Regions from separate parts of the Homo sapiens genome. Here region 1 is linked to region 2. The links come from fine-mapping of genetic effects on gene expression. A gene starts in region 2. The other region holds a variant in brackets. All regions are shown on one strand. Distances are between the middles of the regions. Region 1 overlaps LOC105379330 (a long non-coding RNA gene). Region 2 holds the start of NEFL (neurofilament light chain).

The links.
Region 1: its variant is fine-mapped to the expression of NEFL in fibroblasts (GTEx, PIP above 0.99).

Annotation. Positions count from the first base shown.
Region 1 is chr8:25,000,737-25,013,354 of GRCh38, reverse strand. LOC105379330 (a long non-coding RNA gene) reads right to left here. Exons shown (of 3, transcript XR_949591.2): 2 at 4,768-4,961; 3 at 3,314-3,637. Among named protein-coding and RNA genes, the nearest start is that of NEFL, 50 kb to the right of the region's middle. RefSeq lists an enhancer at 12,004-12,618. The variant A/G (reference allele first, on the strand shown) is at 5,368.
Region 2 is chr8:24,949,013-24,961,630 of GRCh38, reverse strand. NEFL (neurofilament light chain) reads left to right here and starts at 5,019. Exons shown (of 4, transcript NM_006158.5): 1 at 5,019-6,159; 2 at 7,326-7,450; 3 at 7,836-8,155; 4 at 8,679-10,676. The coding sequence starts at 5,116. The coding sequence ends at 8,821. It overlaps MIR6841 (microRNA 6841), which reads left to right and starts at 7,764; the gene lies at 7,764-7,835. RefSeq lists an enhancer at 6,269-7,468.

The DNA.
Region 1 (12,618 bases), 52 kb before region 2:
GTTCACTCATGATTTGGCTGTGTTTGTCTGTTATTGGTGTATAAGAATGCTTGTGGTTTTTGTACATTGATTTTGTATCCTGAGACTTTGCTGAAGTTGCTTATCAGCTTAAGGAGATTTTGGGCTGAGACGCTGGGGTTTTCTAGATATACAATCATGTCATCTGTAAACAGGGACAATTTGACTTCCTCTTTTCCTAATTGAATACCCTTTATTTCCTTCTCCTCTCTGATTGCCCTGGCCAGAACTTCCAACACTACGTTGAATAGGAGTGGTGAGAGAGGGCATCCCTGTCTTGTGCCAGTTTTCAAAGGGAATGCTTCCAGTTTTTGCCCATTCAGTATGATATTGGCTGTGGGTTTGTCATAGATAGCTCTTATTATTTTGAGATATGTCCCATCAACACCTAATTTATTGAGAGTTTTTAGCATGAAAGTTGTTGAATTTTGTCAAAGGCCTTTTCTGCATCTATTGAGATAATCATGTGGTTTTTGTCTTTGGTTCTGTTTATATGCTGGATTACATTTATTGATTTGCATATGTTGAACCAGTCTTGCATCCCAGGGATGAAGCCCACTTGATCATGGTGGATAAGCTTTTTGATGTGCTGCTGGATTCAGTTTGCCAGTATTTTATTGAGGATTTTTGCATCAATGTTCATCAAGGATATTGGTCTAAAATTCTCTTTTATGGTTGTGTCTCTGCCCGGCTTTGGTATCAGGATGATTCTGGCCTCATAAAATGAGTTAGGGAGGGTTCCCTCTTTTTCTATTGATGGGAATAGTTTCAGAAGGAATGGTACCAGCTCCTCCTTGTACCTCTGGTAGAATTCGGCTGTGAATCCATCTGGTCCTGGACTTTTTTGGTTGGTAAGCTATTGATTATTGCCTCAATTTCAGAGCCTGTTATTTGTCTATTCAGAGATTGAACTTCTTCCTGGTTTAGTCTTGGGAGGGTGTATGTGTCGAGGAATTTATCCATTTCTTCTAGATTTTCTAGTTTATTTGCGCAGAGATGTTTATAGTATTCTCTGATGGTAGTTTGTATTTCTGTGGGATCGGTGGTGATATCCCCTTTATCACTTTTTATTGAGTCTATTTGATTATTCTCTATTTTCTTCTTTATTAGTCTTGCTAGCAGTCTATCAATTTTGTTGATCTTTTCAAAAAACCAGCTCCTGGATTCATTAGTTTTTTGAAGGGATTTTTGTGTCTCTATTTCCTTCAGTTCTGCTCTGATCTTAGTTATTTCTTGCCTGAGAAGAAGTTCTTTTCAACTGAAACACTGCTAAGTTGGGCTGCAGCTGAGCCCAGGCTCTCTAGTCTGTACCTACTCCTCTATTCATTGGTTATTTGGTGTTAAGAGGGGATACTAGGAAGGGGAGGCTGGAGGGTTGAGGATAAATACTTCTGATGCCACGAGTTTACCATAGCGTGATATAAACTGAGGGACGGGAAGGTAGTTGGACCATCTTTCATCTCCCAATTTCTTCTCAAACTTAGTGGGTTAAGGAGGGCAGGTGCCAGAAAAAGGTTCAAGGAACATGTTCAGTTAGGCCTTAAATATGCATTAAACATCTAAACTGTGCACAGAACTTTACTACACAATGTTGATATAACAATGTCCAAGTAAAGATAATTTAATTGTACATTTTTAACTAACTAAAAGAGTAAAATTAGATTGTAACACAAAGGATAAATGCCTGAGGGCATGGATACCCCATTTTCCTTTATGGGATTATTACATATTGCATGCCTGTATCAAAACATCTCATGTATCTCACAAATATATATACCTATTATGTACCACAAAAGTTAAAAACTAAAAAATTAAAAATCAATCCAATACACAGTTTCTTTCCATGAAGTACTAACATGCTAGTTGGGGAGATAAGATTTCTGCAGAACCTCTCTTTCAGGAAGGCTTCATAAAGCTGATGGGTTCTTAGCTGTCTGAGAATATACAAATGTTGGGAAAGTATAGGAGTGGTCTCCATGGTGTCTCAAGGTCCCTACTAAACTTTGGAGACCCTGAGACCTGTTTGATGTTATCATCAGTACCTGTAGCATTGGCTTCATCCTGAGACTTGATCACCTATCTGGCTCACTGAACTCCAGGGGGCTCTAAAAGTTTTTCCCATCCTAAGGCAAACAAACTCCTTCATTGATCCCAAGTGCAAAACCTAAAATGACTGTATAACTCTTTCTACCCTGACCCCACCCCTTTTTCTTTTGAGGACAAGAAGGCTTCAAAATTAAGCCAATCTGCTATTTGTAGATTTGGAGAATGTTCTCCCCTTTCAGATTTTCAGGTTTCAAGTTGCATCCAAAAGAGAAGAGACTCAGTCCTCCTCTCCACTGACAGAATACGACCTCAACATGGGTAGGAAAGTTCACAGACAGAAATAAGCTTTTGGGAAGAATGGAGCCAATGAGGTTTCATAACAGAAGGAGCACAGGATGGAGGAAGAAAGCTAAAGTTTTGCTGATTCACAAATGGGTCCAAGTTCAGGTGAAGACACATTCCCATGTGGGCAGATTGTCCAGTCTTTGCTCCCTTGGTGTCATTTTACCCCCAGTAACAAACTTTAATTATAACAGACCCATAACTCGGCAATTAAGAATAATTTATGTCCCTTTCCTAAGGGAGAATTAATCGCATATGCCAGACAGGATCCCTTTATCATTTTGTTAACTAGATAAGAAGCAGAGAGCTCCTTTTATTCGAGCCACCCTAAATATTGCAGTCTTTGCCATATAGCTCTAGGCAGTAGTTATCTTTCATTTTGTACCAAATACATTCTGAGTTCTCAATCTCTCATTTCAAAACAAATGAAAAACAGAAAGAAACTTAAAAGTAACAGGAACAAACTGTGCTTTCCTCGGCTGTAATCAAATTATTCCTTTTGTCCTGGCATTAGACAGTAGCTGGCAATAAAGAAAACCCCAGGAGCACAATATTCCCGTGATTGCGTCAGCATGGAAGATTAAACTTCCATAGCATTCAGGATGTCTCAGCTTTGCCCCTCAAACAAGAGGCTCTTACTGTCATCTCCACCATTTCATAGTGAAATATGTTTCTGCAGTGTTAGGGAGAATTTATGAGTAGCTCAAAGCTTCCTGTCTGAAGATACTTTCTCCCAGAAGCAAAGGAAAGGCAAGAAAAAAAAAAAATCCAACGCTGAAAATCAAAATAGATCTTTGTTTAGTTTTATTTAAGAAAATTTTATACCTTTGCAAAGCCCATATTGCCTGTGTAGGTTTCTAAACTAGAACAAACAGAACCCTTCAAAAAATTCCTAGTGAAGCAAAACTTTCATAGAATCACAATTTATTCTCTCAGAAGAGATGAGTCATTGTAATTTGGGTATCATGATTCACTCCTGCGCATAACCAGAACACTGGAACAATATTAATTACTCCAGCCTCATTTTCACTACAAAAGTCACTTCCAACTCCATCAGTTTTCAGTCCAAAAGAACATACCAAGTTTGGTAAAGAAACTTGAAGATCATTTTCTCTCTGCTTTGATCTAATTTTTTTAAAAAAAGACTTTAAGTTTTCAGATGATAGATTATATTCTTGAAAGCTGGAACGCAGATGCAGCATCTCACAATTCTACCAGGAACAGAAGAAATCTGGAATTGGAATGGAAGATGAGGTTGCTGTGAGCAGAGAGGGAGATGGGGTTTGTATTAAATTAGCTTCCTAGGCCCACTGTGGTGGCTACACTTGTAACCTTAGCACTTTGGGAAGCCCAGGAGGAAGGATCACTTGAGGCCAAGAGTTTGAAACCAGCCTCGGCAACATAGTGAGAGCCTGTCTCTACAAAAATTTTGAAAAACAAAAAAAGTGGCCTGGTGCGGTGGCTCACACCTGTAATCCCAGCACTTTGGGAGACCGAGGCTGGCAGATCACGAGGTCAGGCATTCAAGACCAGTCTGGCCAACTTGGTGAAACCCCATCTCTACTAAAAATACAAGAAAAATTAGCCAGGAGTGGTGGCAGGCACCTGTAATCCCAGCTACTCGGGAGGCTCCAGCCTGGGTGACAGAGCGAGACTCCATCTCGAAAAAAAAAAAAAAAAGGAGAAAAAGAAAAAGTTTCATAGGCAGACCAATGACTGTGGAGCATCACAGTCTAGGAGTGCAAGGTGAAAACCTTTTTATTTCCACACAGAGGTCAAATATTATTTATATATGCATACCAGGAAATTACTATAGCTGACGTTTCACAAATCAGGGCACCTGGTTCCCTATGACAGACCCCAAGTGTTCCCTGATTCAAGAATTTATGAGACAGTGGGCTCCCAAAGAGGCAGTCAGTCACCTACTCAGTGTATAGCAGTGCCAAAAGACCTCTCTATCCCCAGTGTGCCCCACCCTGCTGACCTTGAGACCCTCCCCATAACGTTGAAATTATCCACTTTTAAATTACTTATAGGTAATTAGAAAAAAAAAAAGGTAACCCAAGGTGATGGTGTATTTCTGTAAGACCCATGATAAAGCTGTTGATAATTTTCTGGCCTCTACGGTACTGTCTTTTTTTTTTTTTTTTTCTGACTTCTTAGGTTGCTAAAGACTCCTTGAGAACTTTATGCAATCGGTTGCTCTTTCCAGAAAAATATACAAATACATGGATGTTAGTGTGTAAATTCAGATGGATCACAAATCTCCTGAAGTCCACCCATGAAAACTACCCGTCTCTTTGCCCCTCAATTCTGAATATCTTCCCAACAGCTCACTCTCACCTCCTGTACAAGTCTCACCTCCTCCATGATGTCTTCCATGGTTTCCCTCATCTGAACACTTACAGTTCATCTGAGCACCATCTTCACTGCTCTTTTGCGCTATTGCAGAAAGTGAGTTTTCTTTTCATTCACTGGTGTCTTGACTTCCTGAATAATGATACGCTCCTCGAAAGCACGCATGTTGTGTTCTTGAACTTTATATCTCCATAGCACTGGGGAGGAAAGAAGGAATTCTGCTACGCCTAATACCCAACACACACTTTCCCTTTTCCAGTGTACATTTCTTTCCTTTTCTTTTTTCTTTTTCTTTTTTTTTGAGAAGCAGTCTCGTTCTGTCACCCAGGCTGGAGTGCAGTGGTGCGATCTCAGCTCACTGCAACCTCCGCCTCCCGGGTTCAAGGGATCCTCCTGCCTCAGCCTCCCAAGTAGCTGGGACTGCAGGCGCCCGCCACCATGCCCGGCTAATTTTTTGTATTTTTAGTAGAGACGGGGTTTCACCGTGTTAGCCAGGCTGGTCTTGATCTCCTGACCTCGTGATCCGCCCGCCTTGGCCTTCCAAAGTGCTGGGATTACAGGCATGAGTCACCACGCCCGGCCTCCAAAGTACATTTCTAATAA[A/G]TTCAACAGTTTCATAAACAACATATTTATTGCAACAATATCACAACATTTTGCAACAGCTTCAGAAATAGTGATTATTTATTGTGACAGTGTTGCAACATTTGTGACAGCTTCAGAAATAGTGGCATTTATTGCAACAAAGTGCAACATTTTAGAAAGTTGCAGCTGATACATGTTTCCTCCTCCCACTCTAAACAGAGACTTCCAACACAGAGGGAACTTGGAGAGTGCTGGGGGGTACTCAGCAGAATGGAAGCCTAACCGTTTCCAGGGAAACAATCAGTAAAGACATTTCCCTGGAAAGCCTGCGTTGCTAACTGCAGTGCCACCCCTGAGGGCTCCATTCATGATTTAAACACTGGATATGAAAAATAATCAGAGATTTAACCAAGGACACTACCAGTTTAAGCCCTTGTAGAGACACTCCTAATTGGAGCAGTTTCGGTGTGATCCCTCTTTTCTCCTTCACACAGGCCCCAGTGGCTTTAACCTACATTTCTGTAAAATTTGGAGCTTCTACCACACACGCATCAGGGGTCATCTCCCTCAAGCTTTCCTGAGAATGAATTTAAAGTCTGATGATTCTTTCAGTTACTTGCCTCCTTGTCATCCATTAGCAGTAAACTTTCACTTTTTCTTCTTTTCCCCTCATCCTAGGATCATGTTACAATTTAGTGGTTACGAGCTTTGGTATCAGACTGACATGATTTTTAACATTACCAGCTGTGTGACCAGGAGAATATGACCTAACCTCTGAAAACCTCAGTTTCCTCATGTGTCAAATGGGAATAATTGTACCAGTTTAAATTTGTTGTAGAGATTAAAAAATGAAACCAGGGCCAGGCGCGGTGGCTCATGCCTGTAATCCCAGCACTTTGGGAGGCCAAGTTGGATGGATCACGAGGTCAGGAATTCGAGACCAGTCTGGCCAACATGGTGAAACCCCGTCTCTACTAAAAATACAAAAATTAGCCAGGCATGGTGTTGGGCACCTGTGATCCCAGCTACTCAGGAAGGAGGCTGAGGCAGGAGAATCACTTGAACCCGGGCGGCAGAGGTTGCAGTGAGCCTACACTCCAGCCTGGGCAACAGAGCAAGATTCTGTCTCAAAAACAAAAACAAAATCAAAAACAAAACAAAACAAAAAAACAAGAAACAATGTGCACAAAGTCTACATTAAAATAAAATCGTGTATACTGCAATGTCTAGCACATAGTAAGTGCTTAAGGAATGAATAGTCCATCACAGTTTCTAGATCCTTTGCTAGGTTATACTGAGATGACTCTAGAAGCCATCAGATTGTGCTAAAATTTCTCTGTCTTGAGTAGATATGAAACTGACTTGGACTGGGACCAAAGGACTCAAGCAATATCCTACCAGGACCTGCTTCCAAATTCTTCAACTATGGACCATAGCTGTAGGAAATAGTAATTTCTACCACAGTGTTGATGTGTACATTAAATCAGCTTTTAGATAGATAGTGTCTAGCCTGCTACCTATCACGCAGGAAGTACTCAGTACAGGCTAGCGTCCCATCTGCAGCAGTTGTACCAGCCAGGGCATAAGAACAATTACCTTCAGGGAGGCTTCTCTAAGAATGTCTGGACCTGGGTTCTCTTTTATATTTGTCCATTTATTTACCATTTCCAGCTTCTTTGTTCCTCCTATAGATCTTCCATCTGGTACCATTTTACCTTAGTCCTTGGATCTTCACCATTTCTTATAGTGCAGGTCTGCTAGTAACAAATTGTCTCAGATTTCATCTATCAGAACATGTCTTTATTGATCTCTTTTTTCCCCCAAGGATCTTTTCATTGGACACATAATTATGACTTTACTTTTTTTTTCAGCATTGAAAAGATGTCTTTCTTTCTTCTTTCTTTTCCTCCCTCCTTCCCTCCTGCCCTCCCTCCCTCCCTCCCTTCCTTCCTTCTTTTGTTTTTGACAAAGTGTCTTACTCTGCTGCCCTGGCTGAAGTGCAGTGGCTTGATCATAGCTCACTGCAGCCTCAACCTTCTAGGCTCAAGTGACCCTCTTGCCTCAGCCTCCCAACTAGCTGGGACTCCAGGCACATGCCACTGGGTCCAACTTGAAAAGATGTCTTTCTGTTGTCTTCCGGACACTTTCTCATAAGAAATCAGTGATCATTGTTATCCTTGGTTCGACGTATGCAGTGTGTCTTCTCTGGCTGCTATAAGACTTTTTTTTTCATCTTCGATTTTTCCGCAATTTGGCTGTAATATGCCTACGAGTAGTTTAAAAAATGTTTATCCTGTTTTGTATTTGTCAAACTTCTTGGATCTGTAATATAATCAGTTTTGGGATTTTTTTTCAAAATTGCCTAATCTGACTCTCTTTTCTTTCTGAAGTTTCTAATTATAATTATGTATGTTAGACTATTTGTGTTGTTCCACGGTTCCTTGAGTTTGCATTTATTTTTTTTCAGTCTCTTTTCTCTTGTTTCTTCAGGTTGAATAGTTTCAGCTAATCCATCTTCAAGTTCACTGATTCTTTTTTCTTGCCATCTCTAATAAGCTGTTAGATTTTTCATTTTAGTTAATGTACTTTTCAGTTCCAGAATTTTGAGATAGTTATTTTCATTACAGTTTTCATTTCTCTGCTAAGATTTCCTATTTCTTCATTTTCAGACCTTGCTTTTTCTTACATTAAATTTTTTTTTTTAATTTTAAGTAATGGGGTCTCACTATGTTTCCCAGGCTGGTCTTGAACTCCTGGGCTCAAAAGATCTTTCTGTCTCAGCCTCTTGGCTAGCTAGGATGCACTGGCATGCACAACTGTACCAGCTTCTTTCATTCTTTGAACACATTTTTATTCAATTTTTTGATATATTTATCAAAGCTGATATAAAATATTTTTCTGCTCAGTTCAATCTCTGAGCCATCAGGTTGGTTATTATTGACTGCTATCTTTCTTGACTACAGAGCATATTTTCTTACTTTCTTGTTTGTCTAGTGATTTTTTTAATTGAATACTAGATTTTGAATAGTATGTTGAAGAAATTCTAAATTCTGTTATCTTCCTCTGAAGAGTGCTAATTATTGTTTAGCAAGCAGTTCAATTACTGGCTGATCACCTTAATCAAGTCATTTCCCAAGTTCCTCTACCTTGATGGGACTTGGCCTTCAAATTCTGTACTCCCCACCCCCCAATTATTTGTCAAGGCTCCGTTTTAGGCTGTGTTACTGCAATTCTGGAATAGGTCTTACTCTAGAACGAGCATGTTTTGACCCTCAGACCAATCCTGCCTACTCTCTATTTTTGAAAATATTGGAAATGAGTCTTGGAACACAGACATGCTATTAATTTGAGTATTTTTTTATGACTGATTTTCTGTTACAACAGCAGAGTTGAGTAGCTGCAGTACAGACCATATAGTCTGCACAGTGAAAATTATTGAACATATTGCCCTTTACAAAAAGGTTTGCTCATCCCCGCTGTAGAGGTTAGCCCTTATTGCTAAACAAAAGCAGTTCTGGTGTCTTAGCTGGATTTCAGGAGTGTTAATAAAGTGTTTTTGAAATCTCTATTCTTTCCAGGTCAGAATTCCAAAGTCTTTGGGCACAACTCTTCCCCCAGCATTGCTAGTATCTTTTCCCCCACAAATATTTGCTAACCTGTGAGTCCCAGGTGGTCTCCTGCTCATCTACAGCCCAGTCCGCAGTCATGACCTCACAAGGGGTCCTCATATGGGATTAGGGTAGTATTCTCTATAAAGCTACCTCCTTGTTGATGCTCCACCCTGCAGATTCAACTATTTCAGCTTTGCTAAACTCTGTTCTCTCTCTGTTCGGCCCAACTCTTGAGCCCTGCTTGGACCTCAGCTCTCTGTGCTACAGTTAGAAAAATCTCTTCCAGCAGAGAGCTGGATGATTTGGGGGTTCACCTTGTAAGTTTTTCTCTCTCAGAAATAACCATCTCTGGCTGTCTGTTGTCCACTGCCAGCCTCAAATATTTTCTCCTGGCTTTCTAGTTGTTTAAAGCTAAAAAACTAGTCCAGTACCAGTTACTGCATCATGACTAGATGTACAAATCCTTAAAGTTCTTTTTAAAGCCTCATCTCCCTCTTGGCAGATGATATCTTTCAGAGTCTGTGGCTCAATTTCTCATTTCTCCTCCAACTCCCAGCTCAATGTGTCTTCTCTTCTTTAAAGAGGCCAGGTTCTCTTAGGAATTTGCTAGTAATTTTCTATTTTCTCTCCCAGGGACATCTGCAGTTCACAGCCCATTTGCAAAAGGAACCAACTAACAGCCCCTGAATGTAATGACTGATGCATCCCTTTCCAACTCTGGTAACTAGCTCTGCCCACTCCCTTTTGTTCCCTAGGATGACTCAGGAAAACGTCCACACACCCTTCATGCTTGTGAGGCTTTAGAATTATACTTCACAACCACAAATCTTGTTAACCTTAATATGCGTGCACATTTCTATCTGTGGAAGAAGAATGATTGATCACAGGCTCATGCACAAAATAATCAATAGATAACCCAGTCAATTCTCATCATGACCAAGGAAAGAAGGAAAATAAAGTTTCATTTATTCAGGAACAGTGATGTGCCAAGAATTCTGCTAAGCACTTTTACATACATAATATGGCTTAATTCTTACTGTGACTTTGGAAAGATGATATTATTAATCTTTGTCTTGAATAAATAAAAACCCCGAGGCTTTGAGAGATTAAATAATTTATACTAGCTCGCAGCAGTCCATGGTGAAGTCCTAAAGCTGGGTAGGTCTGTGTGACTTCAGAACTCTTTCCCAAACATCAAATGACCTCACCAAAAAGGATAAGCCCCGACATGCACAGTTTATAAGGCTACAAGTTTTGTGACTTACTCTTTTAAGTCTGTTCTTTGTTTAAACTGATTTTACTTGCATAAAAATGTTAGGATGGGAAATAGTACATGGTATGCTTTTTCCTAAACTGAAATCAGCCTGTCTGGATACAGGAGAAGAAGCCAAGAATGGAAATAGAAGTGTTGTTGGTTTAAGAAGCCAAATTTTCCTCTTCTTTGATCTTAGTATTTATAAGAACATCATCTATCATTGATTAAGCACCTCTGTCCACCCCTGTGCTAAGCATTGCAGATGCATCTAATTTAAGCCCCTCAGTGAAACTGTGAGGTGGGTGTTATTGCTATGCCCCATTTTTAGAATAAAACAATAAAGTTTGGAAGGTTAAGTAATTTCTAGTAGATGGTAAGCTGCAGAGTCAGGGTCTGACCCAGACTGTAAGATTTCTGTCTGTGCTTTCAAATTCTGTGCTATTCTCCTTTCTAACTGCAACTGCATCTACCCTAAAAAATTTTGATTTCCTAACCTTGGAATTCAAAATAATCCAAACAATCTTGGCTTCTTCAGCCTCCATGCCCATACTCTTTTATGAGATAGTAGAAGAGCCTTGAAAATAGGATTGGGTTCAAATCCAGATCTTAACACTGTAAAAATGAAGAAAATTATTCTTGTTTTGCCAGAGTTGTGAGAGTTAAAAGGGAAAGATGGTCAAATGTCCATTACTTACATGATTGCAGTACTAAGCATGCACCCCAGAGATACAAGTATGGCCTTCTATTTAATTTTATCTGATGGTAGCTGGCAGGGGCAAGTATCTCTGCTTTCAAATAAAATCTTCATGTGTGGTGGAAAAGTCCAAGCTATTCTCTCAAGAACAAAGATAAGGCAACCAACCACAGCTGACAGAGTAGCCTTCCCCTACCCAATTCTGTAAATAATACAGCCTGTCGAAGGGATATGCAAAAACCCATGGGAAAACTTTACAGTCCAGTGTCAAAGTCTGATAGGAAAAGCGGAAAAATAAGCTGTTTCCTAGAACCGAAAGAAAAGCTTTAAACAGCTAGAGAGTGAATCTTATTCCAAAGGGCTGTGAGGACAAGTGATTAATCTGGAGCCCTGTTCAATCGACATCAAAAACTGGTGCGCAGCCTCGGGAACCTTGAAGACCAATTAGATCGAAGTGAAAAAGTGGAGAAATTGGGCCAGAGCCGTGGAGATGTGTGGGCTACAGGCTCTCCCCGCTCCCCCAAAACACCAGCCTCCGTTCCAGAGTGGCCCACGCTCTCTTTCCTCCCGGCACCGATCCTTGCATTAAAGGGATCGGGCTAACCTGGAAGGGATGAGAGTTGAGAATACAATGAGAACGGCACAGATCACCTGTGGATCCCCAAAGACAGCCTTCACCCGTATTCCGCCCAGAAAGGGCAGAGTCACCCTGGTCCCCAAGCCTGGCGCGCGGGCGGCGGCGTCCTTAGTAACGAGGGACTCTAACACCCGCGACGAGCCACTTGGGAACTGGCTTCTCCACCTCCCCGACCCCGCGGAACCTCAGCAGTCAGTCCCTGTTCTGCCTTGGGAAGCTGCCTCGGGCAGCTGCCTCCGAAAGAGCAGAAACGCCACAAAGTTCCTTAAAAGCCAAAGCATTCATGGGGAAGAGGTTCAAGGAGGGCGTATGTGTGCGGAGGTGGTGGTGGTGTTGCGGCACTCGGTGTAGACCAGCAGAATTCCGGACTGGGTGACCGCAGCGTCTTGCACAAAACAGCACACATCTCCCCGGGTGTGGCTGGTGCCTGCGGTAGTAACTAGGGCCTGAACCCGCTCAGTGAAAGGATGAGGAAGGACAGGAGGGGGCCTGAAGAAGAGAAAAGAGAGGAACTGGGAAAGAGCAGAGATGGAGAAATCGCAGACATAGTTTTTTAAACGGGCATTGAAGATACTTTCGGCAAAACGCGGAAGGGGGCACTGGCCTTACATGGGGATGGGGACAGAAGCCCACGGAGTTAAAATACAAAAGCCAGAGCAACACGGCTGGCACCAGGAGCTCGGGAGCCCCGGGCCCGGAGAAGCCCTTTCCCCACTGGCATCACCATTTCCCAGATTTAAAACAGGGGTTGCTCCCGAGGAGCAAGGCTGAGCCCTCTTTTGAGTCCAGACCCTTTGAATGCGAAGAAGGTTATGTATTGTTTACTCCCAAAATGCGCCCATGCACGAATGCACAAGTGGGGCGCATTTTTAGGGGGTTCCTACCAAGCCCCAACTGGTCGCTCGCCGGGGCTCCCACCCTCTGCCTGCGGGAAGCCCTGGGGGTGCGGGAGCTGGGAAGAGGGCGCTGCGCCCGGGCTAACCCGCCAATCGCGTGGCTGGCTGGGGGCGGCCGTGGCTCAGGCGGGAGTGACTCAGCAGCCTCCTGCGGCGGGAACCGGGGAGGGGAGCCAGGC
Region 2 (12,618 bases):
GGCCTCTGGGAAGAAAACACATTACCTTCGCTAGTTTTCTGGAGCGAGCATTTAGGAGTTTGAACCTATCACCATCATTTCTGCTTGGACAGCAGTGAGTTCCCATCATTTCTCATACTGCACGTGTTCTGAATATAAATGTGCTTTCCATCCTTAATCTATTCAAATGACATTCTCGTTCCTGCTGCAATCTAAATTTTATATAGCCACATAGCACACTTTATGATGCATCGCTTCAAAATATGGTGCTGTAAAATAGACATACTTGATAATAAAATGGGAAAAGTTTTCTTTCAAACAAACATATTTCCCAAGAGATGAAGGAGACTCACGTATGATTCCTGTCGTGAGCAAAATATACAAAGAAATAAACTGGCTACAAGAAACAGAGATGAAAGATCTTTGTGATTTCAACAAGCTATACATTTCTGTTGACTTTATTCATGCTGCTTTGGAGAAAGTTAAAGACTTGCAGAAAGCATTATAAACTCCAATAATGAGGTGTTCAGTGCCAGCATTTTTTTCTTTTATTCCTTAGAGCAACTTTTAAGGGCACGTTTCCAAAGAAAACCCATTTACAAGGGTGGAAAATGAAGATACTGTAATCAGAAAAAAAAAAAAAGTGGAAGTCGTGATGTGGCCATTTTAAAGAGTTAGGTCAGCTAATTTGCATTTTAGCTTATTAATTCCTGAAAGGGTGTTTTGTAAATTGATGTTTAGAGTTGCATGTAAAATGTTACAGTGCCAGTTATGTGTCATGTTCCACTGGCCACACCCATTTTATTTTACATTGGGATATTTGAGAAACCTACAACAATCATGTAGTTTTTTGCTGCCACTAGCTGCCCAAATGGAGCATGCTCGTTAATGGTTTCCTCATGGTGCAGAAGAATTCAAATTGGTGTCCCCAAAGCAGGATAGGTTTATTATATGCACGCTAAACTCTGCAGATGGCAGACTTCGCTTATCAAATTCCACAGAGACATAAGGAAGCAGTAAATGCCAATGGCTGCAGTTTGTGGAATGAGTAGAACCCTCAGTCTGGAAGCAGGTGGAGCTTAGGTTTGAAGGAGCTGTGTGAGTTGGCAAATTACTTACTTCTCTGGGCCTCAGCTGTTTGCTCTGAATAATAGTGACCATCTCCAGGTGATCTTGTCATTATTCAATACAAGATAGCAAATGCCTGTCATATAGCAGGTATCTTGCATGCATTTATTTACTGGGTTTCCTTGCATCCACGTACCGATGCCAGCTTTGGTGACACTGATGTATCTACCTGGTGGTGAGATGGATGGAGACTCATCTGCTGATCGGCTGTTCTTTTTCTTTTCTTTCTTCTTTTTTTTTTTTTGAGATGCAGTCTCACTCTGTCACCCAGGCTGGAGTGCAGTGGCGCGATCTCAGCTCACTGCAACCCCGCCTCCCAGATTCAAGCAGTTCTCCTGCCTCAGTCTCCTGAGTAGCTGGGATTGAAGGCATGTGCCACCACACCTGGCTAATTTTTTTGTATTTTTAGTAGAGACGGGTTTTCACCATATTGGCCAGGCTGGTCTCGAACTCCTGACCTTGTGATCTACCCGCCTCGACCTCCCCAAGTGCTGGGATTACAGGCATGAGCCACTGCGCCCGGCCGACTCATCCGCTGTTCTGTCCTAGGACTTCTGCCAGAGCTTATTGGTGGTAGGAGAACTTGACTTTTTTGACTCTTGGACTGAGGCTTTTCATGGGCCCTACCCTAAAGCTGACCTTTTCAAAAACACATGCCAATACAGAACTTCCTGCTTTCTCAGATGGCTTTAGAATAATAAAATGAAAAGTCATCAGTCGCCAGGTCCCATCTATCTGAAACTTTCAGGCTCTGCTGGCACTGGAGAAGTAGAATGTTTTCAGTGGTTCTAAGAGTTATGCCTTATGTTTTTTTTATTATTATTACTGTGAAGATATTTGCTTTTTAACTAAATGACCTGGGACAGTTCTTTGGAGGGTTACAGAAGTATTAGGGATAACCAGAGTGGTAGGAATTCTGTTAAAGGGGTCATCAACATACTTCCATATTTTTAATCTCCCAGGAGCATGTTTTGTTGATAGCCCTCAACCAAGTTCAGGTTTGCAGAGAATATGTTTAAAGGGGAATAAATGCATAAGGGTGTGACAAGACTCAAAAGCCTCCTTCTAAAGAGACTGCGACTCTACTACAAACAGCACTAATCAGAAACATTTATGGTGAGGGAAAGAAAAAGTCAATATATATATTCTACCTAAATAGGTTTTCTAAAGTTGTTCACTTTGCTTTGCCACACAAAGCAATGCCATGTGTGCTTTTAGAGCAAAATGCTGGAAAGAGGATTCAAAAAGGAGGATGACTGGACAGAATATTAAAGAAGAGGCAGGCACCTGGCAGAGGAAGGCTGAAGATAGAGTAACCAAAACTCAGACCCCGGCTGGATTCGGGAGTCCTGCAAAGCAAGGCTGTCGTGGAGTATGAGGTGGCCAGGCCAGGAGATATTTAAAAAGACCAGAGATCGATAAGCCTAAACGCTGTGGATCTGCCCCTTCCCCCACTCTGTGGGCCGGGTTCAGCACAGGAAAGGGTCCCATTCTCACCCTTTGCTCCTGTGTTCCTCTTTTTTCCAGCTACCCAGGGGACGGCAGGCAGCAGGTGCCCCAATGGTTTCTTCTCTCTGAAGCATCCCTCTGCAGCACCCGCCGCCCCTCTCCTTTCTGGGCAGCCTCCTCTGCAGTCAAAGGCTTCAGGGAGGAGCCGCGGAAAAAAAGAAAAAAAAAAAAAAAAAAAAAGAAAGAAAGAAAGAAAAAAAACGCTGATGGACTTAAGATCTGAGGGTGACCTGAAACTCCGGGGAAAGACAGCTGGCACAAAGGAAACGAATTCATAAATACCTGAGAGTGTGTTTTATGCAGACTCACACACACTGAGTGTGGAACAATGAGGTTTGCAGGGAGCAGGTTAACAAAATAATCCATTCTGCCATGCTTCATCTACATATGGGTAATTGGGAGGAGACAACTCTATGGCTTATCTGGGTCCTTGTTCCACCCTCCGCCTCCAGAGAAGCCTATTCCACCCTTGAATTTCATGAGTGAAAAGACCAAGGATAGCTAGGCTATGAAAAGTCAACAGAGTAAGTACCCTACCAAACCTGCCAGGGACAAACAATATTCAGGACAGCCTCATGACCTTAGGCTTGAAATCTAGAATATTTGGGCATGGATGGTCCTCTGAGATCACTTAGTCTTGATAGATTTAAACTACTAATTTCAATATTTGTGAATTTGCATTATTTGCGACAACAGACATTGTTTAGAAACCCGAGGAAAGTTATCTGCTGCAGTCTATCATGAGGACGGTGGGCTATCACAATCACAGGTATTTTTTTTGGGGGGGGGGATGAGAAAGGGCCTCTGAGGATAAGCCTCACCCCATCCTTTCCTCGGGAGAGGAGTGAAATGTCTCCAGAAGCAACTGCACCACTGCAAATACTTCACCCTCCAAGTATCACAGGGGAAGCCATTCCGGCTTCTCTATTTGAAAACAGTTACCATATTCCCCCTCAGTTTGCCTCTTAAAAAAAACATAAGTTGCACATCAAATGCTGCGATATACAAATAAAACAAAAACTAAATGCTTGCTCAGATAAATCTTAGGTGTTTCGTGTAAATCTCTGCAATCCCTCCATGAAACCTGGGGGACTCCTAACATCATGCGTGTGAAAATGCCCTGCAAACCGTAGGGTTGTATCCACGTGCGCTACCGCGTGCGCCAGTTTCAAGCATCTGGGTGCTTCCTGAAGGAAATCCATGCATTCCTGACTGCATCTGTTTTCGGGTTATTACATTGTATCGGGGGAAGAGTCACGCGGCTATGGCTATTTTCTATCCGTTCCTGAAGAAGCCTGGGTGCCGAGTTCTCCTCCCCAGAGACCACACCCAGCGCTCAGGGCTGGCCGCAGCGGCTTCCCTGAAAATCAGCCAACTGCAAGGCTTATCGAAATCATCAGGTCGTGTGCTACACATGTGTAAAAAGAGGAAAGCGGACTTTAAATGTGCTGCGGTTGGTGGTAGCAAGCAGGAATTTAGCTTGGTGAGGATCCAGGCAGCTTGAAGCTCCCGGCTGCGGAGCGCGCGGCTGCCTCAGCAAGTCAGTCTCTGTGTTTCCAACTCTTTCTCTGCCCTCCACCACCCACACACTGCAACACGTTAAAGCCATCTGCGGCTTCATTCTCAGTTAAGAAATGTGAAAATCTAGAAACACTAACAGGCGGATTAACTGCTGTAAAGGTTTAAAAATGCTAAACCAATACCTGCAGTAGTGCCGCAGTTTCACGAGTGTGTGTGTGTGTGTGTGTGTGTGTGCGCGCGCGCGCGCGCACTCGCGCGCACATTCCCTATGTGTTAAGCAGCTCATTAAAGAAAAAGAAAAATAATCAGGAGAAAGGAAGATGAATTGCAGAAAGTGCCAGAAAGCTAGAAAGAAATTAAAACTCTTCTCCATACATACTGCATACACATAACCTAGCCTATTTATTTGTATCTAAAATTCCCTAGCCGCACCATCACCGTAAACACCAAGGGAAAAAATTAAGGAGGTTCCTGGTGGGAAAAGGGCGAGTTGGGGGGACAGGGTGTCTGCGAGGTGACGGGATACAGAAAACTAGGGTGTCAAAAGGGAGCAAGAACCTGTTTTGGGGGCAACTTAAGGATCCAAGTGTCACGGGGTCTGGGCAATGCAGGACGGGAGGGGCTGCGTGAGTGAGTACAGAAGGGAAATGAGTGAGGGGGCATGGGATCTCAGAGAAAATCAGGGCCCTCTGAGCAAAGTGGAAAGGACGACCGCCGCAGCTCCTCGGGCCGTAGCTCGACCCCGCCTTCCCTTTTGCGCAGAATCCTCGCCTTGGCTGCAGCAGCGCGCTGCCCCCACTGGCCGGCGTGCCGTGATCGATCGCAGGCTGCGTCAGGAGCCTCCCGGCGTATAAATAGGGGTGGCAGAACGGCGCCGAGCCGCACACAGCCATCCATCCTCCCCCTTCCCTCTCTCCCCTGTCCTCTCTCTCCGGGCTCCCACCGCCGCCGCGGGCCGGGGAGCCACCGGCCGCCACCATGAGTTCCTTCAGCTACGAGCCGTACTACTCGACCTCCTACAAGCGGCGCTACGTGGAGACGCCCCGGGTGCACATCTCCAGCGTGCGCAGCGGCTACAGCACCGCACGCTCAGCTTACTCCAGCTACTCGGCGCCGGTGTCTTCCTCGCTGTCCGTGCGCCGCAGCTACTCCTCCAGCTCTGGATCGTTGATGCCCAGTCTGGAGAACCTCGACCTGAGCCAGGTAGCCGCCATCAGCAACGACCTCAAGTCCATCCGCACGCAGGAGAAGGCGCAGCTCCAGGACCTCAATGACCGCTTCGCCAGCTTCATCGAGCGCGTGCACGAGCTGGAGCAGCAGAACAAGGTCCTGGAAGCCGAGCTGCTGGTGCTGCGCCAGAAGCACTCCGAGCCATCCCGCTTCCGGGCGCTGTACGAGCAGGAGATCCGCGACCTGCGCCTGGCGGCGGAAGATGCCACCAACGAGAAGCAGGCGCTCCAGGGCGAGCGCGAAGGGCTGGAGGAGACCCTGCGCAACCTGCAGGCGCGCTATGAAGAGGAGGTGCTGAGCCGCGAGGACGCCGAGGGCCGGCTGATGGAAGCGCGCAAAGGCGCCGACGAGGCGGCGCTCGCTCGCGCCGAGCTCGAGAAGCGCATCGACAGCTTGATGGACGAAATCTCTTTTCTGAAGAAAGTGCACGAAGAGGAGATCGCCGAACTGCAGGCGCAGATCCAGTACGCGCAGATCTCCGTGGAGATGGACGTGACCAAGCCCGACCTTTCCGCCGCGCTCAAGGACATCCGCGCGCAGTACGAGAAGCTGGCCGCCAAGAACATGCAGAACGCTGAGGAATGGTTCAAGAGCCGCTTCACCGTGCTGACCGAGAGCGCCGCCAAGAACACCGACGCCGTGCGCGCCGCCAAGGACGAGGTGTCCGAGAGCCGTCGTCTGCTCAAGGCCAAGACCCTGGAAATCGAAGCATGCCGGGGCATGAATGAAGCGCTGGAGAAGCAGCTGCAGGAGCTGGAGGACAAGCAGAACGCCGACATCAGCGCTATGCAGGTGCGGCACGGCCAGAAACACAGGGGGGCGGGGGACTCGAGCAAGGGGGGGAGTTGGTGCGCCCAGAAAGTGGAGACCAGGGGTGGTGCGGCTGCACGCAGCTCTTAGGGATAGGGCTTGGCTCCTTGGCCACTGTGTGGGAGGGGTGGGGCACTTGAAGGGCGTGAGTGCGGGCGCCACTGTAGTCTGGGAGTGTGCTCCGTGCTGCTGCACCGGCGTTCCGCATTAAAGCTGCCCAGCCCTTGTTGGGTGGGGGAGGGGAAGACGTGGGAATTGGGCGTTGCCTCCGGCCTGCAGTGAGATCAGCTCTCTACTGACCTGCATTAACCACAAGTTACTTTGCAGCAACTATCGGATCATCTAGTTAATAAATAGTAGAGTGAACAACTCTCAATTAATTCTGAAGGATTACTGTGACCAGCATGCTTTATGACTAGTTTTACCAACCACTCCCTTCCTTTATTTAGTAGGTAGACAGGAAAATAGTCAACATTGTTTTAGGTAGTTAACTAGTGATGTTCATAGTAAACCATTTCCTTTTACCTTTTTTTTTTCTTTTTTTCTTTATGTGTAAAATCTTCTACAACATTTCTGTTTAAACATCTCCATCTTCTGGGGAGTAGAAAAAATACAATTTTAAAAAGATCTCCATTTTAAAACATCTCCATCTTCTGGGGAGTAGAAATTTTTTTCTTCTTCTGGGGAGTAGAAAAAATAATTTAGATACATAGGAAATATTTCATAGAAAATAATTTTTTTCTTTTTTTTGTTTACATCTGGCTATTTTCTTCTCATAAAGAAAGGCATTAGTTTCCTGGCATGTAACCCAGCTAAAGAAGAGTTAATCAGTGAATGAGAGACACAGTTTTTCTATCAACTTAGTCTGTTTGCATGCATTTTATGATGATCATTAAACAGTATTAAGTAAAGAAACAGAAGAACAGAATTTTCGTCCATCTTTTTTTTCATCTCAGGCTTCATGAACTTGGGTATTTTAGGCATGAAGGTTTTTCAAAAGATACAGGAAGTTATTCTAGGAGAGATTTTATCAAAGGTGTGCACCTTGATTTTAATCGAAACTAGGCCTTTGCAACTACACTACAGTAAAATAATAGAAGGGATTTATGCTCGGATTTTTTTTTTGTTTTATTTTTGTCTTCAAACAGGACACGATCAACAAATTAGAAAATGAATTGAGGACCACAAAGAGTGAAATGGCACGATACCTAAAAGAATACCAAGACCTCCTCAACGTGAAGATGGCTTTGGATATTGAGATTGCAGCTTACAGGTGAAAATAGAGGGGCAAAGACAGCAGCCATTAAACCTTAGGAAGAAAATCAGATCCCATTTAAAGTTATGTTGGATCAGAAACCTTCAATAATAGTCCTTTTGAAATAATGAAGTGTTAGTTTTTGGCTTCTTCCAAGAAGAGGGTATTTAGATATATAAGAATTTAACCCTGTAATTAGGAGTCCTGTTTTTATCTTGTCATTACACTTTAAATCTAATAGGATGATTTATTTATATTTTTTCTGGTCTCCATCAAAAGATCCCCAGGCATTAAGTATTGATAAATCCCAGCCCTGCTCCTGCTTGCCTTTGTGTTTAGGGTACTCAGAGCAAGTTGTGAAACACAGGTGTTTTTTAACCTCACCTTGCATCTGCATCCCCAGGAAACTCTTGGAAGGCGAGGAGACCCGACTCAGTTTCACCAGCGTGGGAAGCATAACCAGTGGCTACTCCCAGAGCTCCCAGGTCTTTGGCCGATCTGCCTACGGCGGTTTACAGACCAGCTCCTATCTGATGTCCACCCGCTCCTTCCCGTCCTACTACACCAGCCATGTCCAAGAGGAGCAGATCGAAGTGGAGGAAACCATTGAGGCTGCCAAGGCTGAGGAAGCCAAGGATGAGCCCCCCTCTGAAGGAGAAGCCGAGGAGGAGGAGAAGGACAAGGAAGAGGCCGAGGAAGAGGAGGCAGCTGAAGAGGAAGAAGGTATGATAAGAAAAAACCCCTGCAACTTCAAGTGTAAACTGGGTGTGGAGATTTGTTAGGAGGTGGATAAGACAAATGAAGCCTTGCTCATTTATTCATATATGACATTAGAATCATAAATAAATTTTCTGTTTGTTTAGCAAAACTTTCCTAAGGCATCTACTCTGAATGAGGTGATTGGTCAAAATTTTCATTTTTTAATATAATCATTTAACACAGCAGGTTGGTGTCCTAAAGAACAAAAATAGATACCAGACACATAATGAAAGAAATATTGAGGTTAAGTCTTGGAGAGGAGCAGAGCTTCCCATACCTAGAAGTGATCTCATTCGATTTAAATATGTGTTCAGTGGCAAATTATTCATGGCAAGCTTTGTCTGTTACATGTGCTTTTGGAGAGAGTGGAGCTGGGAGGTTTTGGTAGCATTCTGACAGTTGTGTTTGCAAATAAAACCTTTGCAGACATGTTTTGACTGGACTTACCCTGGATTTGCATTTTGTACATTTTCTTTTTATGTTAAAGCTGCCAAGGAAGAGTCTGAAGAAGCAAAAGAAGAAGAAGAAGGAGGTGAAGGTGAAGAAGGAGAGGAAACCAAAGAAGCTGAAGAGGAGGAGAAGAAAGTTGAAGGTGCTGGGGAGGAACAAGCAGCTAAGAAGAAAGATTGAACCCCCATTTCCTTAATTATTTCAGGAATAATTCTCCCGAAATCAGGTCAACCCCATCACCAACCAACCAACCAGTTGAGTTCCAGATTCTATGTGAATTAAAAAGTCAATATATGTATAATTCTGAGATGACTTAGGTTGGACATTCAATGTTGTGCTATGAATTTCCTCTTTATGCAGAGTATCTGTTTGCTTGCAGAGTGGCTTTCTGGCTTGCTGCCAGCCTGTGCATGGACCACGCTTATGAGTTCAGGATCTACGGCAATGTGAATCATTCAGATGTTTACAATAAAAAACACCACATGAGTAAATGAATTCACTAATGTTAATGTTAAACTTCATGGAAAAATAGTCCTTTGAACCTTCGGTGGTTAGCAATTAAAGACCCTGAGTTATGTGCAATAAATAGTAAATAAAGTTATACCGAATGATGTATTTTTTGCTGTGGTTGTTACTTAATTAAAATACCTTAAAGATGGCACCAATATAAAGTATATACCAGTGGACTATTGACCTCCAATTTTTTAAAAAGTTGAAATTTTAACAATTACCAATACTTTTTTTTCTTCCTTCAATTGGAAATTCTGAGGGATACAGTTATGTCATGATTACTTGTGAAATCTCTCCCCACAAAAATTTTACTGATAATAAACATGAGTAAATGAGAAAGTCTATAAATAACAATAGACTTTGCCTCATAACACGTGTTGTGTTAGGTTTTGGGATGGCTTTCTAGGGAGCAATTCTGAAATTACTTGACAGATACACTCTTTATGGTAAACAGGTCATTTCAGAGTCTAGAGTGCTAACCATTACACTATGGAACCATGATAAATAGGTCATTTCAAACTGATATGTCACAATGCAATATGGATAGAATATGAATCCCATACATTCATCCCTATAACTGCATTTTAAAATATAGTCTAAATATCATGGGAGGAGGTTAAAACCTGAGAACATGGTACAATAAGAAGGAATAATTTTTTATCTATATATAATTTCAGGAGAAGGGATTAAAACTACCAAAGGTTATTTGCCACTCCACTGCAAACATGTTGCCTGCAATCCTGAGCTCATGATTTAGTGTGTTGTTAAGCGTAATTCTGTTGCCTCAAGTAAATACCACTTAATGCTACACATTTTTAAACCTTTAAAAGCTACAGACACAAGTAATGAAATTATGAGTCACTTAAGGGGGGAGGTAATATGCTTGTATGTTACATTGACATTGCTCTGCATGTCTCTACTGGGAGATATTTGGATTTCAATGATAGCTTGACTGGTTGGACATTGCATCAAATACACGCCCCATGTATCCTTTCTGTCGTAAAGTTAAGAACGCTCTTGCATTTGATGTGGAATAAATATAGATGATATTACTATCTGCTATTCTGCCTTTGTTCTGAAACAATTGCTTTGTCAGCTAATTTCATTCAATATTTGTTTTTTAGACGATCTCTATAAGTTATTAATTTAACCTGAAACCAAAGTGGTCTCCATTTAAAGTTACTTAATCCCTTTGTACCACCTATTTCTAGTTAAATATATGTTGCTATGCAAATAGGTAAAGTGCTTCCTTGCCATGATGGTAATGGATTGGAACTATGAAGGCTCTCAGTGTATTGGCTTCTGTAAAGATGAGGCGTCTCCTCAGAAACAAAACTTTTCACATTTCTGCTTACTAGACCTGGGTTGATGTACATGGTAAGTCTCAAACAGATGCAAGCTATGTGCAAAAAGTAACTTTAGCCAAATGGAAATAGCTGGATGCTTTGAGAATTACTTGGTTGAAGTAAGAAAACTGTACCATCCTCTATCCTGTGTGCCATAATAAAATAGTAAAAAACCTAAATTGAGCTTAAAGTCTTTTTTAACATTTCCCCAAATTTGGTACTGTGGTCAGTGCCCCTTTTAACCTGCAGTTCTCTTTCAGTATTCCCTCTCCTAATGAATGATCCCCTCTCTATAATCATCTGATTCCATTAAATGGACTCCTTAAATGACATCCTACCTCCCATTACCTCTCCTCTGCCCCTCTACACTAACCTATCACAGAGTTATAGTGAGAACACCTCCATGTCTTAGATCCTTCCACATCTTTCAATGTCTTAAATCCTTCCACATCTTTCAATTTATACTGCCACCACTCTAACCCTTCTCCCAGGGCCTACTCTTGGTCTCCTTCAATTAGCACCCTACAGCAGGCTAATCTTTTAAAAAGAAAATTTTGATCTTGGCATCTCCCTGAATAGAACCCTCTAATAGTTTCCCACTTTTAATATGAAAACCAAAATCTCAAATGTGATCTTCAAGGCCTGCCTAGTGCTGACTCCTGCCTAGTTCTCTAACCTCATCCCATTGTACAGCCCTTTCCCTCCACTTCCAGCACTCCAGTCACCCTGGTATTCTGTTCTCCCATCTGTCACAGGATTTTTGGTGATTCCTTTTTCTGGAGCACTCATCTTTTCTCTCCTTCCCTCAGCCTTGCCCAGCCGGTTCCTACTGACCCTTCAGATTTAGGCTTAAATGTCATTCTCTAAAGGAAGCCTCCCTTGACCTCTTCTAGTGGGTCAAATTCTTTGAAATATGTACATAAGACTTTGTAGGCTTTTTGATTCTTGCCATTAGCATCTATTTGTGTGATCAGTTGATGAATGTCTGCCTCCCCCATTACAGTGGGATCTTTACAAGTATTAGAATCAGATCTCTGTTGCTCATTAATTTAGCCCCAGTATCCAGCATAGTTCCTGCCATAGTAGAAGCACAGTGGATATTTATTTAATGAGTGACTTTCCCCATCGATTAAAATGCCTTCAAGATGACTGGCAAGTCAAGAGTGTTCAATAATAAGTCCCAGTCTAGTCCATACCTTCTTGTAGAAAGAGCAAAGAACCAAGAATCAAGAGTCCATCCTGGGTCCTAGCTTTGCACTATTATGGAACATTGGCCATTCCTGCCCAACCTCAATTTGCTTATCTACACAAGGGTTCAGTGGTGGACATTTCAGATCCATTCTAGATTCATAATTCAAAATCTCCTGAAATACCCTTACTGCTTTATTTTAGAAGTCCAGGCTAAATGGCTGAATGGAAAACACACATATGATACTCATGTCCTCACTAAAAATCCACCCCCTAAAGGGAATTGCTAAACTTAGTGTGAAGTTTCATTGCTAGCAATTTAACTGCTCAAATTGGTAAGCAATTAAATTCGTCACTTTTTTACCCATATGGAGATTCCAGTGCTGTTGGAGGGGGTTACTATGTCCCATGATGCTGTTCTAAGTACATTTTCTGCATTAACTCATTTCCTTACATGCAACAACATTCTGAGTCCACTATGATTATCATTCCCTATGTTATTATTATTTTAAAAGTTATTTGTATTTTTTAAAAATAGTGACAGGGCCTCACTACATTGCCCAGGTTGGTCTTGAACTCCTGGGTTCAGGTGATCTGCCTACCTTGGCCTCCTGAACTGCTGGGATTACGGGTGTGAGCCACTGCGAGCAGCCTATAATCCCCATTTTACAGATAAGAAACTAAGGTTAAGTGAGTCGACGAAGGTCATGTAGCTGGTTGGTGGCAGGGCTGAGACTCAGACTCACCCACCTCACTGCATCTCCTTTGTGGTCCAGCTTATAAGGTACACTTGTGGCATCAGAGTATGTTTCCACAGGCATGTTTTGTGACAGTGGTTGGGGAGTTCACACAATAGTCAGAATCCTTACAAGGCAGTCGTGTACCGTTCAAGAGCCACATATACACTCACAGTGTTCCACTGCAGTTAGGATC